4 separate regions of the Homo sapiens genome follow, and regions 1, 3 and 4 are each linked to region 2. Evidence: fine-mapped expression QTL. A gene starts in region 2. Each other region holds a variant in brackets. All regions are shown on one strand. Distances are from middle to middle.

Region 1 (2,500 bases), 220 kb before region 2:
AAAAATGATTAATGAGAACTTTATTACTTGTGATATTCATATATAGGAATAGAAACTAGCATTTACATATAGCAATAAACCCAAAGCTACATAATTTTTAAATGTGTATTATATATTAACTGCATATTATATAATATATAAAATCAAACTACAGTTGTCCCCCAGTATCTATGGGGAATTGGTTCCAGGACACCCCAAGGATACCAAAATCCAAGCATACCCCAGTCCTACATTTGACCCCATGGAGCCTGGATACACAAAATGTTGGCCCTCTGTATCTGCAAGTTTCAAATCCTGCAAATATTGTACTTTTGATCCACACTGATTGTGGATGCAGAAGCCGTGGACACAAAGGGCCAACTGTGTTTGAGAGAGATCCACATTTAGATAAACCCACACAGTTCAAACTCGCACAGTTGAAACTCACGTTGTGCAAGGGTCAGCTGAACATCAAACAAGCTTTGGCAAAAATGCTTTCACATACGGATATTAATAAGTTACACTTGGAATAATAGTAACTTCCTTAACTAAGTCTCACAGTATCATTTATTTCATAGGCTAATAAGGGAAATAAGGTTTCAGTCTAGAAGATATTCAACAAATGCATCTAAGTTTCTCCTAAAAGTCTAAGACATTGCTCTTGGTGCTGTTTTCATGACATTCCATGCTCTCCTGAAATGATCACATTAAAACAAACATAAAATTATACTGAGTTGGACACAAAACTCTGAGACCCTGCCAACCTAGTATTTATTGGCACTATCATCTCCAGCTCTATGCCATGCCCTGTAAGCAAATTGTTTTTCTTCCTAATGGAGAGGTGTTTCCTGTTTTTAATGCAATTTCCCTGGGCTGACAGGATAAATACATGTAAGAACAACATAGGAAGAAAACCCAAGACAACAAATAATTAAGTGCTCATTCCCAGCACTCTGGGAGGCCGAGGCAGATGGATTGCTTCAGCTCACAAGTTTGAGACCAGCCTGGGCAACATGGCGAAACCCCGTCTCAACAAAAAAAATTCAAAACTTAGCC[G/A]GGCATGGTGGTGCACGCCTGTAAGCTGAGGTGAGATTGCTTGAGCCTAGGAGGCGTAGGTTGCAGTGAGCCAAGATGGTGCCACTGCACTCCAGCCCGGGTGATAGAGCCCGACCTTGTCTCAAAAATAAATAAATAAATACCGCACTCTAGATAAAGACACACTGTAGTCTGCAGGGGTAGGCACTGTGTGCAACAGAAGCATATAGGAGGGTCACCTCACCCAGTCCCTGGAGGGAAGCATGAATGGCTTACTGGGAAGAGGCCACCTTGGCATCCTTTAACCTAGATTAGTGAGAATTAGCCAGGGGAATGGTGAGGGTGGAAGCAGTCAAAGCCCATGGATGGCAGAAGTAATGCTGCCCACCAAGGCATGTGGTGGTGAGGGGCAAGGGAAGGGGGACAAAAGCATTGTCTTTCCTCCATGGGCAGAGGAAAAAAAGACAATACCAAGAAGTGAGAATGGAAAGATACACAGAGGCCAGGTCAAGGAAGGGTTTTTAAGCAGTATTATGGCTTCTGAATTATATCCTCGGAACAATGGGAGCTCATGAAGTATTTTAAGCAGAGAGATGAAGGATCCGATTTTCATTTTTGGAGAGGTCATGGGGAAGAGACTGAGGCTGCAAAAAAATAAATAAAAAATATGCATACCAGTGGTGTTCAAAGTTTTTGATCATAGCAAATGTACCAACATAGGAAAGGAGGCCATGAGCCTTCTGTGCTCCATGTGCCCACCCTCCACTAGAAAAAAGAGCCATGTGAGAAAGAACCGGAGTGGAACATGAACCACTTGTTACATTTCCTTTATAAGAGAAGAAATTAGCTCACACATATGCCCATCATCTTAAAAATAACCATGTAATTTTAGGCCGCACATGGTGGCCCACACCTGTAATTCCAGCACTTTGGGAGACTGAGGTAGGCGGATCACGAGGTCAGGAGATGGAGACCATCCTGGCTAACACAGTGAAACCCTGTCTCTACTAAAAATACAAAAAATTAGCCGGGCGTGGTGATGGGCACCTGTAGTCCCAGCTACTAGAGAGGCTGAGGCAGGAGAATGGCGTGAACACGGGAGGTGGAACTTGCAGTAAGCCGAGATCGCACCACTGCACTCCAGCCTGGGCGACTGAGTGAGACTCCGTCTCAAAAAAAAAGAAACAAAAAAAAGCCATGCAATTTTACTTCACTTCTTCAACCTCACAATCAAAACACTTTCATAAGCACAGGGGCTTAGGAATGTGGGCCCTAGAAACTCACAGATCTGTCTCCAGCCCTGCACTCACAGAGTGATAGCAGAAAAGCTACTGCACTACCAGAAGCAGGGTTTCACACTATCATTATATAAACAAGAACCAAATGGCATAAAAGTAAGAACTCCACATACCTTCTGTGACTTCTCAGCTACCATGAGGACCAAATCAAAGTCATAGGTGCCAAGAGAATGATCATATAATTCATT
Region 2 (2,763 bases):
CTCTGCCAATAACCTCAGGCAAGCCAAAACACCGCTAGACAGATAAGGGGAATTAATATTTTCCAACTTAATGACGTCAAGGTACACTGAACTTTATTTCACTGACAAAAGAAGTGAATCAATTTGTAAATGGTACTGTTTATGAATCAATTGGCATTCTTACGCACTAAATCTCCACTTGTTTTTAACAGTCTCCAGTTAAATATGTGGATAATTAACTAGTCCACAATATAGTCTGAGTTAGGAATTGTGTCACTAGATTACCTTTGAAATCTTTCCAATTCTAAAGCTCCCTGGTTTTGTAAGAGTAAGCTCAGGTTAATCCAAGCATCACAAATCTACGTCTCTCCCCTTCACGCGGTCAGCTGCTTTACTCCAGGCGGGAGGAGGTGTGCTGTGGTACACCAGTCCCTGCACAACAAAAGCAGTTACCTAAAAGTAAAGCGTGGAGAGGAAGAAGCACAGGCAGCTCAGCACCCAGTGCCTTGCACAAATTATACAGGAATCACCTGAACTGAGAGGCAGCACCAGCCAGTGAAGCAAGCTTTGTTTTAGGACTTGTAAGAAATCTAAGACACCCAAACCCCTCTTTGTCCCTAAGTAGCCCTAGCCTGGTAAGAGGTCACCTTTCCTATCTGCAGGATGGCAAGTTGGCCTAGAATCTCTAAGGTCCCTTCCAGCTCTGACATTCAGATGCGCAGAACTGAGGGTGGCCGAAGCACCCCCGCCCTCTCCAACCAGAAGTAAAACCAAGCCCCACTGCCATGCTCTGAGGCCTCTCTCTGCAAAGCGAAATAACGATTCTCAATCCAGGGCACTGTCCCCCTAAGAGGGCCTATTAGGATTGAAACAAGGCGAAAAGCAGGGAGGCTGTTTCAAATCACGCCCGCCCCCTTTTTGGAAGAATGTCCGCCAAATTCCTGAGGTGTGAGAAGGAAAGCGGAGACGGACGGTCACTGCAGCACAGGTGTGGCCCCTCGTCGCCCCTGCACCGGGAGGAACAGCTGCAGGATTGCACCCCAGAGCGCCGGGACCACGGGCGGGGGACGGGGGCGGACTGCCGCTCACTCACCCACAGGCTGCTGAAGTAGTCCAGCCCGCGGCAGATGAGCGTGGCAGCGTGCACCAGCAGCACCTGCACGCCCAAGTAGCTGCCGAGGCAGTAGAGGCCGTACAGGAGCGGGCCGCCGGCGCCGAGCAGCAGGAGCAGGCGGCGGCGGCGCAGCGCCTGCTCGCCCAGGGCCTCGACGCCGTAGTCGACGAAGCAGAGCGGCAGGAGCAGCGCGGCCAGGACGATGGGCGTGTGCGCGCGGTGCAGGCGCTGCAGCCAGTGGCGGCCCAGGCGCGTCAGCGAGCTCTTGAAGGGGTGCAGAAAAGTGCCGCATAGCACGGCCCAGAGCAGCGGCCGCAGGAAGGCCTCCAGGATGAAGTAGACCAGCACCGCGGCGCCGCAGCACAGGCACACGAACAGCACGGCCCCGGTGTTGTAGAAGGCCTGCTTAATGGGCTTGTCGAAGCGCAGCGCCAGCGCCGCGGTCCGCGGGGTCTCCCCGCCACCGCCACTCGGCCCGACCGCGCGCGGGACCCGCGGCGCCGGCCCGGGAGAGCTCCGCAGGCTTGGCGCGTCCTTAGGGCCGCCGCCGTCGGCCATCGTTCCTCCGCCACAGCCGCCCCCGAGGGGCGGTAATGGGAGTCGGGCTAGAAACGCGGGCGGGAGGCAGGGCGGGAGGCGCGCGAGATTGTGGGAGTTGTAGTTCCCCGCTGGTTTACAGACCCACCAAGCGCTTGCAGGAAACTACAACTCCCGAAGGGGAAATGGGGAAAACGCCTCCGCCTCCTTGGTGTCCGCAAGGTCCTGCTAACAAGTTTGCAGGGTCTATATCTTCCTGGAGGGGGGGGGGGGGGGAAGCTCCTTTCACTCATTCGTTAATGTCAATTTCTCGCGAGGCGAGATCCCAAAAGGCGCCACATTCAGATATTAAAACCCAAGCTGCATACTAGAATACCGTGGGGGAGTACTTTTAAAGAACCAATGCCCCGATTCTGTTTTACTGATTTATTTAACAGATATTTTTAAAGTGTTTTCTTTGGTGTATCTGACAGGATTTTAAATAGAGATTACCATATAACAGGCCCTATTCTAAGTGGCTCACTCCTATTAACTCATTTAATCCTTAGAACAACCCTACAAAGAAGGTGTTATTATCCTCATTTTACCAACAGAAAAACTGAGACAGAGCCGTTAAGTACGCAGCCAGAGTCACACAGCTACCAAGTGGCACAGGCAAGATTCAAACTCAGGGATTCTGGCTCCAAAGGCTATACTTTTATCTACCATAGTATTTGGCCTGAGGAAAGAACTCTTGGCATTTTTCAAACGTTCCTCATAAGCCTGTAATTTGCAGCCGCTGTTGACAACTGTTTGTGCAGGTTTCGCTGTGGACGCAATCTAAACTCTTAAAAGAGTCGTAGATCAAAGTCTCAAACTGCCACTGTTTCTTTTTGAGACTTGATGTAATGTCAGTTAAGCCCCCAATCTCAAGTTTTCCTCTGTCACATGGCGATGATAATAATAATAGCTTTTGCTTTAGGGTTATTGTGTGGGGGAAGGGAAACTCTGGGGCGGTACAAGGTGCTTCTGTTCCCCTATTGGAAAAGTGCTGGGATCCAAGCCTGCTACCCATAAAATATCCCAATCAACATTTTGATTTAAAAAAAAAAAGAAAGCCTTGACTGAGTACTCAACATGTGATTGCTTCAAAC
Region 3 (2,500 bases), 240 kb before region 2:
CTCAATGTCCTTCCTCTGTATTTCCCTTTTGCCTTGTTTAGTCCTCTAATACTTATTTAACAAATCCATATATTAAATTCTGTGATAAAATAATAGATAGGCTTTTGTTTTCCTTTCTAGATCTTGACTGATACACCAGCCTTTTTGAATCCAAATAAAAACTCTTAACAATAGACTTGAAGTATAAGAGAGTGAACAGAGGTATAAATAATAAACAGATGACAATATACTAGAATTCTGCGATACAAAGCTGATTCAGCCTTAAACACAACCCGCAAAGTCCATCATAACAACATAGAAGTGACAAGTCAAATTTTTCATAAAACAAAAGGAAAAGCAATTGCCTGGGGTCCCTTTAAAGCCTGATCCCATCCCTGAGTTCTGAAAGGAAAGTGAGAGGCCGTCTCTGACCCCATCTTCCCCCATCTCTCCCCACTCCAACCTCATTGAAGGCCAGGAGCAATCATGTGACTTTCCCATTTTCTCCATGACAGCTACTTCATCCAGAAAGGAAAATGACAGTCCATTTAACCTATGCCAAGGTATACTAGTCACTCTACAGGCAAATATCAAATCTTACTGACAGCTTACACATAAATCTAAGATAATTTAACTATGGCATCTTATGTTTTAAGAACAGGAAAACTTTTTGACTTGGAGATTGTGTGAATACAATAACCCATGAAAATGATGAAAAAAATGCACACCGTCTCTGAGAAAACTTACCGGGGTAGCTGAATTCTGCTGGTAAGTAAGAGTCCAAATTTCTGGAAGTGACCTTTCCATCAACTGCAGCGTATCTTCAAAGGCCTTCTGTAATTCCCTTCCTTGTTCATCAAACTCAAAGAGAAAGAGTACCTTTAAAATATGGTATACTTCATCTAGAGAGAAGAAATTTGAAAGAGTGGTAAGTTATATTCCCAGCTCCATTGACAGAATCATACATAGCTTCTATCCAAAGCCAAAAATTTCTATGATCCCACTGCAGGTCCTTTCTCCCACATTATCTTTTTTCTTCCCAAATGCTGGAATAATTAAACACATGTACTACAAAAAGAAAATCAAGCACGCTGGGGGGCCTACGCAGAAAGCAGTGTCCCACAATTCTTTATCCTGGC[C/T]TAAGCATCTCTCCCAGTTCAGTTAGGGGGATGCCAAATGGAGGAAGGCTTCTCAGTTACCAGCTAAGAAGGGCTGCTTCAGGAATGTGTGCAGACATGACCCTTCCTGCTAAAAGTTCTCATCTTTCCTCAAATTGGGAAAATGGTAGCTTAATCACCTACTGAACTCTGCCTGTCTGTACTGCCTATTCACTATTGTTTGTGGTCAGGAATCATCATCAGGACTGAGAATATACCTTTCAGGTTTTCAGTGTTCTGCACCACTTCACTCAGTGCCTCCAGGAGGGCCAGGTCCTCCAGCGGACTGCCTTCTTTGAGGCTGTGCTTCTTCCGCTCCGCTTTTCGGCGATTCTTGGATGATCTCCTGTTAGAAATTACACAGATATTTTTAAGCCTCCTGAGTAGCTAGGACTACAGGCATGTGCTACCTTGCCTGGCTACTTTCTTGCAGTTGCTGATGACCCCACACAACTTCACAGATCTCCATTTTAAATTCCTAAAGCAAAATTCAGTTTGAATATATAATCTTGCATTGCTTTACACATCCCAAGCAAGACTATAAACTCTTATAACTCATATCTCCTTATAAGTTTTTGGTAACATCTACTGCACCTACCATATGAGTGCTGAATAAATATTTCTGACAAATTACTATATTTGGTAAAAGTGTTATGACTTATTTTACATTTATGGTCTCTTCCAATCCTGATTTTGAATTGAAGAAGCTTATCTTTTCATTTTTTCAGTGCCTATAATTTAGTCACAACATTTGTTCAAAAAATAAAATCAGATGTTAATATAAACTGAGCATTCAGGGGAGGAACTGCCTCGTGGGGAATGGGAAAACACACAAGCCACAAGGCTGAGGAAGAAAACCTTCCAATGCCAAGTTTAATGTCTCAGATATGCTGGGAAAGTGTCTGAACAACTTCCACACAGCGCTGAAGAATATTCTCCCCACTCCCACTACACCGTCCCAGTAGAAAACCAATCTATTTGCTTCCACTTTCCCTATATGCCCAGGATATAGTCAATGTGCTGAATCAATGTGATACGTACGCTGATATCCTGGAGTTACTATGGGAGTATTTGCCACTCATCTCACTGCCACTCACGACACTGCTAGTTTCAGAGAAGAGGTCTGACTCTTGCCCGTGGGGTACCTCATCATCTAGAAAAGAAGAACCAGAAGCCGATGAAAACACTGCCTGCTAATGTGTGGGTTTACTTTCAGGGCGGTAAATGAACTAACTAGAGTCAACTGGTGCATATCAAAGGATGGATGAAAATGATTGCAAAGTTGATCTCAAAATGAATGAGATAATATTAAATACAGTAATTACTAATGTAAATCAGTAGTTTCCTGAACTTTTTTCTGGAAA
Region 4 (2,500 bases), 230 kb before region 2:
TGCCCAGCCTTCAAGAGTTTTACAGTTTTAGCTCTTAAATTTTTGTTGATCCACTTTGAGTGGCCAGCAGTTTTTGAAAACTCGGAAAATACTGAATCTTTTGGAAAAAAAAAAAAAGAATAAACATGAAAGGTCATTAAAAAATTTCCTTAAACAATCATTGATCACTTAAAGCAAAAGCAATAACAAAGTATTATGGAGTGAATACTCTTGTAAGGTTTTTACACTATATATGAAGTAGTATACGATTATCTGAAGATATGGTCAGTTAATGATATTTATTATAAATCCTACAGCAACCACTAAAATACTGAAATGAAGAAGTATAGCTAATAAGCCAACAGTGGAGGTAAAATGGAATTATGAAAAATACTAAATCCAAAGGAAAGCAAAAAAAGAAAAAAACAAGAAACAAAGGATCAATGAAACAAACAAAAAGCAAACAGCAAGACTGTAGGTTTAAATCTAACTATATTGGTAATCACATTCAATGCAAATGTCTAAACCCTCCAATTAAAAGACAGAGATTGTCAAATTAGATTTAAAAAAAAAAAAGAACCAATAATGCTATCAACAAGGAACGCACTTTCAAAATAAAGACTACATTCAGCTAGATTAAAAGTAAAAGGATAGAAAAAGATATGCAATGAAAAGACTAACCAAGAGAAAGCTGGAAGAATTATATTAATAACATTAAAGTCAAATTCAGAATTAGGAATAGTAACAGAGAAAGAAGGATATCAAAATGAATACATCTATAACATACTCATAAACATGTATGCACCTATAACAGAGCTTCAAAATACATTAAGCAAACACTGGTAGAATCAAAGGAGAAATAGACAAATACTGGGAGACTTCAACACTTTCCCAGTCATTGATAGAGCAAGTAGTGAGGAAATCAATAAGGATATAAAAAGCTAGAACAGCATGATCAACCTAATCTAACTGACATTTATAGAACACTCCATCCAATAATAGTAGCTTTCATATTATTTTCAAATACACACACAACATTCTGTAAAACAGACCATATTATAAATTAAAATAAATTATAAATTTAAATTAATAAAATGTATGTTCTCTAATCACAACAAAATTAAAGTAGAAATTAATAACAAAAAGATGGCTGGCAAATCTCCAATATCTGCAAGTTAAACATACTTCTAAATAAGCCAAGGTTCAATAAAGAAATCACAAGGGAAATTAGGAAATGAAAACAAAACATTTCAAAATTTGTATAAC[A/G]TAACTAAAACGGTGCTTGAGGAAAATTATGGCATTATATGCTTAAACTATAAAGTAAGGAATCATCTCAAATCAATAGCTTTAAGCCATCACCTTGGTCAGGCACAGTGGCTTACACATGGAATCCCAGCACTTTGGGAGGCAGAGGTGGAGGGATCACTTGAGGCCAGGAGTTTCAGACCAGCGTGGGCAACTAGTAACACCCCATCTCTACAAAAAAAATTAAAAATTAGCCAGGCATGGTGGCATGCACCTGTAATCCCAACTACTCTGGAGGCTGAGGGGGGAGGACAGCTTGAATGTAGGAGTTTGAGACTGCAGTGAACCATGATCGTGCCACTGCACTCCAGCCTGAGCAAGAGTGGGACCCTGTTTCTTTAAAAAAACAACAACAACAAAAGAAAAAAATAAGAAAAAAATAAAAGTAAGCCATCACCTTAAGAAACTAGAAAAATAAAGAGCAAATAAAATAATAAAATAATAAAAAAAGAATGATATAGAATACAGAAAAATCATAGAGAAAAACAATGAAACAGTTCATTCTTTAATAAGATCAATAAAATTGATAAACCTCTGGCCAGAATAATCAGAAAAAAGAAGACACATCAATATCTAGAATGAAAGACAGGACATCACCATAGACCCTACGGACAGTAAAATAAGAGAATACTATAAACACTTCATACCAATAAATCTGACAATTTAGATGAAATGAACAAATTACTTGAAAGACATAAACTACCAATGCTCATTCCAGAAGACACAGATAAACTTGAATAGGCTAATGTCTACTAAAGTAACTGAACTAATAGTGGAAAAGCTTTCATTAAAGAAAACTCCTGGCCGAGATGGCCTTACTGGTATATTCTACTAAACATTTAAAGAAAAAAATATCTCCCAAGAGCTGGGAGAAAGAGCTGAGCTGTCAGGTGTTGGAGTAGCTGATCAAAGCAACAAGTCAAAAATGAATTAAGCCTTCAGGCATTGCATTGGTATAAGCAAGAGGCTAAAACCAGGGAAAGCACCAACTCTCTCTGTTCCATTTTTTCCCAAGGAACAACTCACTAGTCAAGAGTCAGCTGGATCCACACAGACATGAGGGTTGGTTCACTGTTGAAGGAGCTTGGAAAAAAAGGCTTTAGCAGTTTGATGGATCTTGGGGGTATGGGTGCAAAGGAAGGGGGCTAAGGGTGGAAAAGTACTGGGTAGTGAGTCACAGTGGAAAAAAATGTCAAGGTTTTTCCACTCCTTCTTG

Alleles and levels. Positions count from the first base shown, and alleles are read on the strand shown. Sizes are in standard deviations (SD) of each study's normalised expression. Not every link is listed here.
For the expression in whole blood of the gene that starts at base 1,685 in region 2, allele A in region 1 goes with a lower level than allele G (small effect, 0.32 SD a copy in Lepik 2017).

Evidence for each region.
Region 1: its variant is fine-mapped to the expression of TMEM245 in whole blood (Lepik 2017, PIP 0.95). The same link has a PIP of 0.9 or more in NK cells.
Region 3: its variant is fine-mapped to the expression of TMEM245 in whole blood (Lepik 2017, PIP 0.93).
Region 4: its variant is fine-mapped to the expression of TMEM245 in blood mononuclear cells (TOPMed, PIP above 0.99).

Annotation. Positions count from the first base shown.
Region 1 is chr9:108,894,071-108,896,570 of GRCh38, forward strand. It overlaps ELP1 (elongator acetyltransferase complex subunit 1), which reads right to left. Exons shown (of 37, transcript NM_003640.5): 25 at 2,426-2,500. Among named protein-coding and RNA genes, the nearest start is that of ACTL7A, 33 kb to the left of the region's middle. The variant G/A (reference allele first, on the strand shown) is at 1,036.
Region 2 is chr9:109,118,263-109,121,025 of GRCh38, forward strand. It overlaps TMEM245 (transmembrane protein 245), which reads right to left and starts at 1,685. Exons shown (of 18, transcript NM_032012.4): 1 at 1,073-1,685. The coding sequence starts at 1,651. RefSeq lists silencers at 1,015-1,124, 1,475-1,644, 1,785-1,834 and an enhancer at 1,315-1,364.
Region 3 is chr9:108,877,269-108,879,768 of GRCh38, forward strand. It overlaps ELP1 (elongator acetyltransferase complex subunit 1), which reads right to left. Exons shown (of 37, transcript NM_003640.5): 33 at 2,178-2,289; 34 at 1,355-1,482; 35 at 727-881. Among named protein-coding and RNA genes, the nearest start is that of ACTL7A, 16 kb to the left of the region's middle. The variant C/T (reference allele first, on the strand shown) is at 1,119.
Region 4 is chr9:108,883,458-108,885,957 of GRCh38, forward strand. All of the region lies in intron 29 of ELP1 (elongator acetyltransferase complex subunit 1), which reads right to left. Among named protein-coding and RNA genes, the nearest start is that of ACTL7A, 22 kb to the left of the region's middle. The variant A/G (reference allele first, on the strand shown) is at 1,246.